Linked DNA regions of Homo sapiens. The protein of the gene in region 2 interacts with the protein of the main gene of each other region in a pairwise test. Each region holds a gene or a part of one and is shown on either strand. Other genes may lie near its edges.

Region 1 (4,439 bases), about 17 Mb from region 2:
CATGTCTCTGAGCATCAATTCCCTCAAATGTAAAACGAGAAGCACATTTGTACTTGTTTATTCGTTTGTGATGGAGGTTAAATAAGATAATTTGGGGAAAGCAGTTGGCAGAATGCCTGAAACAGAAGAGTACTCTGCAAATCAGTCTATTCTCCGTCCCTGTTAATAGTACATTGAAAAACCAGTTAGGGTCTTTCTTCATTCATGGCACTTTTTTCACTTTAGATGGAATTAAGACATAAGTTAAGGCCAGTCTATTGAACAACTCAATAACAAGCAGGAAAATGAAGGAAAGAAATCAGTCAATAATTCATTGTTTGTTGGCTCTACATCCTGTAGATTATAGCCCCACATGGAATTATTTTTTATAATTGTGGTTTTGAAAGAGAAACTTGGATTTTTGTTTCCATTGAATGTTTTAATTAATCTAATATTGTGTCTTTAGAAGCATAGACTTCTTCAGTTTGGTAACCTAAAAGTTAACAGTAAATTGACTTGCATTTATGTTAAAGTAAACTTCTCCTTAAATTTTATACCCTCCAAAGGCCTACATTCTTTAAAAAAATAATTTGCTTTCATTGTAAGCAAGTTAAAATAATAGTCTTTCAGTTTAATTAGCAGTTTATTGAATGATTAAATATATGTTTAAAGTGGCCAAAAAATAATATCATGTTATTATACTAGGAATAAATCCTCCATTAACATTAATTGAGTTTTAACAAATGAGTTGATTAGGAGGAAAGGAAAGAGGAACCAGCTCACCAGATGCAACTTGGTGCCAGACACCTGGTTCCTGCATGGACCTAATGTTCTTTTGTCATAGCACCTTGGAAAAAATAATCAGTGGCTGCATTTCTTAAAAATAATACACTTCCCAGTGAATGAATCATGTACTAAAATGATTGCTTTTGATTTATTTACTCATTTTGTTTTTCAAAGAGTTTATATTCATTTCTCAGAAAATTATGGAGGATAATCAAATTGTCATGCATTTATATGTAAAAAGAGCAGCACAGATGATATGTGGTAATGACCTAAATTTGTCTTGACTAGTTTAATTTCCTACTTTCTCTGCCATAAGTAAGAATGTATGCTGAGACTAACTCAAAAATATTAAAATATAGCAGGGCTCCAGGTATGAAGCAGGATATGGTCATGATAGGATTCAGCCAAATCTAGAGGACTCATGGGACCAGGAGAGTTGCAAAGTGAAGATCATAATGTGTCTTAGATGAAGTTCTTGGCAAGGAGATGGGGTGAGAATTCAGAATAGAGCACTATTTCTGTGCTGGAATTTGTCATCTGATGGGGCTGCCAGAGATTCATATAGGAGACCTCACAAGGAGCCGGGGTGGGAGTGGCAGGGTGGGAGGGAAAGGGTTAGTCACACAGAATTTGAAAAACAAAACCAACAAAGCCAAAAACAGCTGACAAGGTCTTTTAGTTATTATTATTATTTACAAATTCTGTACGAATTTGAGGGCTTAGAAATTTGGACCAAAAGGGGTGGGGAGTTTTTCCCTTCCCTCCATGTAGCTCTGTGAGACCTCAGCACAAGGAGAGATAAGCCAAGAATGCTGCAGCTAGAAGATTGCACCTGGTGGGAGACAACCCACAGATGCCACAGCAGGGGCCAGTCCCTTCTCCAGCTTTGCAGGTAGGATAGGCCTTGACAGTGTCCAAAAGGACTTTATTAGCTCACATGAATTCCCTTCAGAGGTCCCAGGATCACTGGCAAAGGCTTCTGGCAGAGGCTGGAGGGACCACCATATTATAGTTAATATGATTCTATTATAACCCAGACTGGTGTAACCTCGATTAGTACTTGTTAGAGGAGAGCATCAGCAGGGTTCTTGCCCATTAAGAGGAGGGACTGTGCATAATGGAGTGCTGGGAATTGCCCCACCTGTGGAGTCAACACACCCAAGGAGACTGGCACTGCACACTTACTGTGTGCCAGGCACTGCTCCAAATAAGTGTTTGAAGAGTGTTTCTTCATTTCATTCTCACAACAAGCCTGCTACTATACACATCTTTCATATGAGAAAACAGAAGCACAGAGACATTAAGTAGCATGCCCAGGTGACACAGTTTGTAAGTGGTAAATCTGGGACCTGAAGCAGAGAATCTGGCTCCAAAGCCTGTCCTCTTACTACCAAGTGACGTTTGTGCCTGGCACAGAGAAGGTGCTCATTAAATGTTTGCTGATTCAAATCATTTTACCAAGAAATTAAACATGCTTGAGCTTATTGTTCTGGACTTAATGCCCTGACTACTCTTAAAAAGCAAACAAAAATGCTTACAAGTACACCACAATGAAACAAAACCTGGAATTATCAGAACATGGTAAATGCTTTATTAGATTTTCTGATTGACCAAGGGAAATTACTCTAAGCTTTCAATGTCTTCTTTTCCTACAAGGGAACTAAATTTCCAGGAAGTTCTGTGACAAAGCCACAGAGCTGAGAAGTAAATTAGTCTGTGCTGGACCTAGGATTTCCCTTGTTCTTCCACCTCTGTCCCCAGCAATTGCTTTGCTGCCTATTCTCAGGGGAAGGCATTGCACTAGCCATGCATGCTCCCTGGAGAATGACAACTTGAACTGCAAAATCTCAAAGGTTGTGCTTCTTTTGTTCTTCCTCTCATCTAGTTGATAGGCAGAGAACAATTCTGATTGAATATTCTATTTAATTATGTTTAATCATACTAAGAATCAACCAATGTTAATTATTAAAAAGGGAGAAAATGGCCAAAACATCATGTACAACCATCCTGACTTTAGGTATGAAGGGTCAACATTCATTCAGCTCTGAGCCAGGCAGTTAAACAGCAAACAGTTTTAATAAAGGACAATTAAATAAGTCAGGAAATCCACCAGTCTGTTCTCCAGGTTCACTCACCTTGGTGTGGAGGACGATGGGCAGAGGTAGTAAAACCAACACAGTGAAAACCACGAAGAGAAATCGGCGATAAACCAGAATGTAACTGAAGAATTTCATTGTCCTGAGCAGGTGGCTTCAATAGTGTCCTCCAAATAAAGCAGATGTTAAATAACCAACTTGGATTAATATTTTTCCAGCCTGTCACCTTCACTCACTGCCCTAGACCGACCAACACAAGTTAAAATTAAATCTCATTTTTTATTGTTTTACTATCACAATTAACATGAAGAGATAGGCCCAAGACTTTTCATGAGAAATCAAAGACCATTTGCTCCTCTGGGTTTTCAAGGAAAAACTGTTCTTTCCCTGCTTTCTTTGATCACATTCACTGAAATACAGACTGGACAAGCCTAGGAGAAGGCAAAACCATGAAGCTGGTTGTTTGTTCACAATGAGGCACTTCCAACCCTTTTGATGTCCTCTGACTTCCAGACTCCCTAACTGGAGTAGTTACCACATTGTCATGGTGCCATGAGTGAGTCTCCACAGGCAGCCTCCATGGCCCTTTCTAAGGAAGTATGTTTTCAGTGTGTAAATTGAAATAGCAACTAATAGTTGGAATTTCAGTGTATGACAGTGAAAGGGAAACTTTTTTGTTTAGAGATGGATTTTTAACGGACTTCTTGGACAATGTATTGCAAGGGTCTTCTACAAAATTTATAGCAAATGTCCCTGTTGGTTAGAAGCAAAGTTTTGTGTATTTCTTGGACCCTATTGTCTCTTTTGATAGAAAACCAAAATAACCATGAAGTGTTATATAAACCCTCTATTTTAAGACCTTTGAAGGCTTGATTTGATACTGTTGTGCTGATACAGACTACATAATTATCAGGGAATCTGCATAAAGATGAGTGATTAGGGACATTCAAGTGGTGTGTGATGTGTGTGTGTGTATGGTTTGTGCACATGAGCACATGGGAAGTTGGAGACTGTTCCAACAGTGATATGGAGGATGTATTTTGAAAATCTTCAGGGATAAGGACCCTGGTTTTTTTCACGTTGTGTTGTAAATTGATGATCCAGTAAACCTCAAGTTAGCAACTACTACTTGTCTTTAGATATAAATGAAACACATTCCCAGCCCTACTAGAATTTATAGTCAATATCTCTTGACATAGATAACCTTACTCTTATGTAATCTATAGTTAGCATTTAGGTCTTATTTCTAACTTCATACTAATATAACTCTGCATTCTCTTTCCATCAAGAGAAACAATTCTCTCACCAGTACTCACCATATTAATGTAAATGAGAAAGCATTTTTTTCCTGTAAAAAATTTAAATTCCTAAACATCTATTATGGACAGTTATTCAGGAAAATCAGAATAGTAAACAGAAAAAAAGTTTCCAAACCAGAAAGTCTTATTATATCTTAAATTTCTTAGATGAAAGGATAATTACAAATGATATTGTAATAAAATGGTAAGTGATAATAAATAGGTAACAATAGTATATAGTGTTAAAATTAATTTATGAACTGATTTACTCAAACCAGTT
Region 2 (3,818 bases):
AGGGTAGTGGTTTAAAGTACATACAAAACTCTTTGATATGCCTTCCTTCAAAAGGTAGAGCCCAATCCTCTCCCTTTACATGTGGGCTGGACTTAGTAACTTAGTCCAGAATCAGTGGAAATAACAGTATATGACTTCTGACACTAGGTCATAAAAGGCATTGTGGCTTTTCCTTGCCTCCTCTGTTAAATTGTTTGCTCTGGGGAAAGCTAGCTGCCAAGCTGCAAGGATACTAAAGTATCCCTATGAAAAGGCCCATGTGGGCCAGGCGGGGTGGCTCACGCCTGTAATCCCAGCGCTTTGGGAGGCAAAGGCAGGTGGACTGCCTGAGCTCAGGAATTTGAGACCAGCCTGGCCAACATAGTGAAACCCCGTCTCTACTAAAAATACAAAAGTTAGTGGGGTGTGGGCCGGGCGCGGTGGCTCATGCCTACAATCCCAGCACTTTGGGAGGCTGGTGTGGGCTGGTCAGGAGATCAAGACCATCCTTTCAACAAGGTGAAACCCCATCTCTACTAAAAATACAAAAATTAGCTGAGTGTGGCGGTGCATGCCTGTAATCCCAGCTACTCGGGAGGCTGAGGCAGGAGAATCACTTGAACCTGGGAGGTGGAGGTTGCAGTGAGCTGAGGCTGTGCCACTGAACTCCAGCCTGGCGACAGAGCTAGGCTCTGTCTCAAAAAAAAAAAAAAAAAAAAAAAAATTAGCCAGGTGTGGTGGTGCATGCTTGTAATCCTAGCTACTCTGGAGGCCAAGGCAGGAGAATCTCTCGAACGCGGGAGGCAGAGGTTGCAGTGAGCTGAGATCATGCCATTGCACTCCAGCCTGGGTGACCAGCAAAACTCCGTCTTGAAAAAAAAAAAAGGCCAAGTGGTGAGAAACCAAAGTCTCCTGCCAACAGTCATGAGAGTAAGACCTCTTAAAAACAATACTGGGCTAGGCACCATGGCTCACGGCTGTAATCTCAGCACTTTGGGAAGCCGAACCGCGTGGATCACCTGAGGTCAGGAGTTCGAGACCAGCCTGGCCAACATGGTGAAACTCCGTCTCTACTAAAAATACAAAAATTAGCTAGGTGTGGTGGCGGGCGCCTGTAATCCCAGCTACTCCGGAAGATGAGGCAGGAGAATCGCTTGAACCCAGGAGGCGGAGGTTGCAGTGAGCCGAAATTGCGCCACTGCACTCCAGCCTGGGCGACAAGAGCAAGACTCCATCCTAAACAAAACAAACAAAAAAACCCAAACAAACAAACAAAAAACAATGCTGGCTGGGCACTGTGTCTCACACCTGTAATCCCAGCACTCTGGGAGGCCGAGGTGGGCAGATCACTTGAGGTCAGGAGTTCGAGACTAGCCTGGCCAACATGATGAAACCCTGTCTCTGCCAAAAATATAAAAAATTAGCCGGGCATAGTGGCACGCAGATGTAATCCCATCTACTTGGGAAACTGAGGCAGGAGAATTGCTTGAATCTGGGAGGCAGAGGTTGCAGTGAGCCGAGATCTTGCCACTGCACTCCAGCCTGGGCAACAGAGGGACAAGACTCGGTCTCACACACACAAAAAATATCCTGGAGTCCCCATCAAGTCTTCAGATGACTTGCTAAAATTTTGACTGCCATCTCATAAGTGTCTCTGAGATAGAACCATCCAGCTAAGGCACTCACAGAATCCGGAACCCCAGAAACTGAGATAATAAATGTTCACTGTTTTAACCTACTAAATTTGGGGATGGGCCAGTTTCTGGGGCTCATGCTTGTAATCCCAACACTTTTCGGAGGCCAAGGCAGGAAGATTGCTTGAGCCCAGGAATCTGAGACCAGCCTACGCAACATATTAAGACCCCCATCTCTACAAAAAACTAAATAAATGAGGTGGTGCATCCCTGTGGTCCCAGCTACTTGGGAGGCTGAGGTGAGAGGATCATTTCAGCCTGGTAAGTTGAGGCTGCAGTGAGAAGTGACCACACCACTGCACTCCAGCCTGGGCAACACAGTAAGACCCTGTCTCAAAAAAATAAATAAAAAATAAATTTGAGGGTTACTTGTTTAACATCCACAGATAATACACCTAGTCATTTCTGAACTAGGAGGATAGAAAAGCCCTACCCAATTTTTTTTTAAGGTGGAGTCTCGCTCTGTTGCCCAGGCTGGAGCGCAGTGGCGGGCTCTTGGCTCAGTGCAACATCCACCTCCCGGGTTCATGCAATTCTCCTGCTTCAGCCTCCGAAGTAGCTGGGATTACAGACGCACACCACCATGCCCAGCTAATTTTTCTATATTTTGTAGACATGAGGTCTCACTAGGTTACCCAGGCTGGTCTCAAACTTCCAAGATCAAGCAATCCTCCTACCTAAGCATCCCAAAGTGCTGGGATTATAGGCATGAGCCACTGCCCAGCCAAGAGTCATTTTCAAAGCATTATTTTTAATCAGTGACATATAAAGCTATCAGAAGTATGTCTTTTACCTTTTTCCTCCAACCCACCCCTGAACAAATTTATAAACAAATTCTTACCTGCAGCGGTCTCCATAAATACAGTACCCTCGCTGAAAATACTTGCACACTACACTATACGGACTGTCAGAGAGGTCATGCGAGTAGCGACAGTTGTCTCCTTCCTTACAAACCCCATGCATAAAATACCTGTGAGACGAAAGACCACAAAACTGGATTAAAACCAATCCTTGAAAATATTAAAACTAATTAGTATTCATGACTAATATATTCAACCAGTAAATACACAAACATACGAAATAAACACAAAGAAAGGGCCAGGCATGGTGGCTCATGCCTGTAATCCCAGTACCTTTGGGAGGCTGAGGTGAGTGGCTCACCTGAGGTCAGGGGTCTAAGACCAGCGGTTCGAGACCAGCCTGGGCAACATGGTGAAACCCCGTCTCTACTAAAAATACAAAAATTGGCTGGTGTGGTGGCACACATGTTAATCCCAGCTACTCAGGAGGCTGAGGCAGGAGAACTGCTTACACGTGGGAGGCTGAGGTTTCAATGAGCCGAGATCGCGCCATTGCACTCCAGCCTGGGAGACAGAGCAAGACTCCATTTCAAAAAAAAAAAATAAAAAGAAGGTGATAAGAAAACAGGAGTAAAGCAAGTGTATTAGTCCGTTTTTGCATTGTGTTTTTGCTTTGTAGCTGGGACTACAGGCGCCGCCACCACGCCCGGCTAATTTCTTGTATTTTTAGTAGAGACAGGGTTTCACCATGTTAGCCAGGATGGTCTCGATCTCCTGACCTTGTGATCTGCCCACCTCGGCCTCCCAAAGTGCTGAGATTACAAGCGTGAGCCACTGCGCCTGGCCCTTGTTTTTGCATTGTTACAACGAACTATTTTGACATTCCAGCCTGGGTGATGGAGCACGACTATGACTCTGTCTCAAAAAAATGTAATAATAATACGCCTTAGATTATGAAAACTGTTTAACTTACATAACAAAAAGAAAAAAAAAGGGCCAGGCGTGGTGGCCCACACCTGTAATCCCAGCACTTTGGGAGGCCAAGGCGGATGGATCACGAGGTCAGGAGATCAAGACCATCCTGGCTAATATGGTGAAACCCCATCTCTACTAAAAGTACAAAAAATTAGCCGGGCATGGTGGCAGGCACCTGTAATCCCAACTACTCGGGAGGCTGAGGCAGGGATTGCAGTGAGCCGAGATCGTGCCATTGAGCCACTGCGCTCCAGCCTGGACAACAGAGAGACTCCATCTCAAAAAGAAAAAGAAAAAGAAAAAGAAAAAAAGATATAGTCTACGTCAAAGAATTTCTCCTCCAAACAAAAACCAATGAATATAAGTATAT

What was found.
Region 1: the proteins of MKRN1 (region 2) and SLC13A1 interact in a protein complementation assay, tested with the Homo sapiens proteins (one large-scale study listed by BioGRID).

The regions. Positions count from the first base shown.
Region 1 is NC_000007.14:123,196,948-123,201,386, forward strand, and holds the start of SLC13A1 (solute carrier family 13 member 1), read right to left. Parts: upstream 3,023-4,439; 5' UTR 3,000-3,022; coding exon 2,901-2,999; intron 1-2,900. UniProt on the Homo sapiens protein: Sodium:sulfate symporter that mediates sulfate reabsorption in the kidney and small intestine. Can also mediate the transport of selenate and thiosulfate.
Region 2 is NC_000007.14:140,469,369-140,473,186, forward strand, and holds part of MKRN1 (E3 ubiquitin-protein ligase makorin-1), read right to left. Parts: intron 2,644-3,818; coding exon 2,515-2,643; intron 1-2,514. UniProt on the Homo sapiens protein: E3 ubiquitin ligase catalyzing the covalent attachment of ubiquitin moieties onto substrate proteins. These substrates include FILIP1, p53/TP53, CDKN1A and TERT.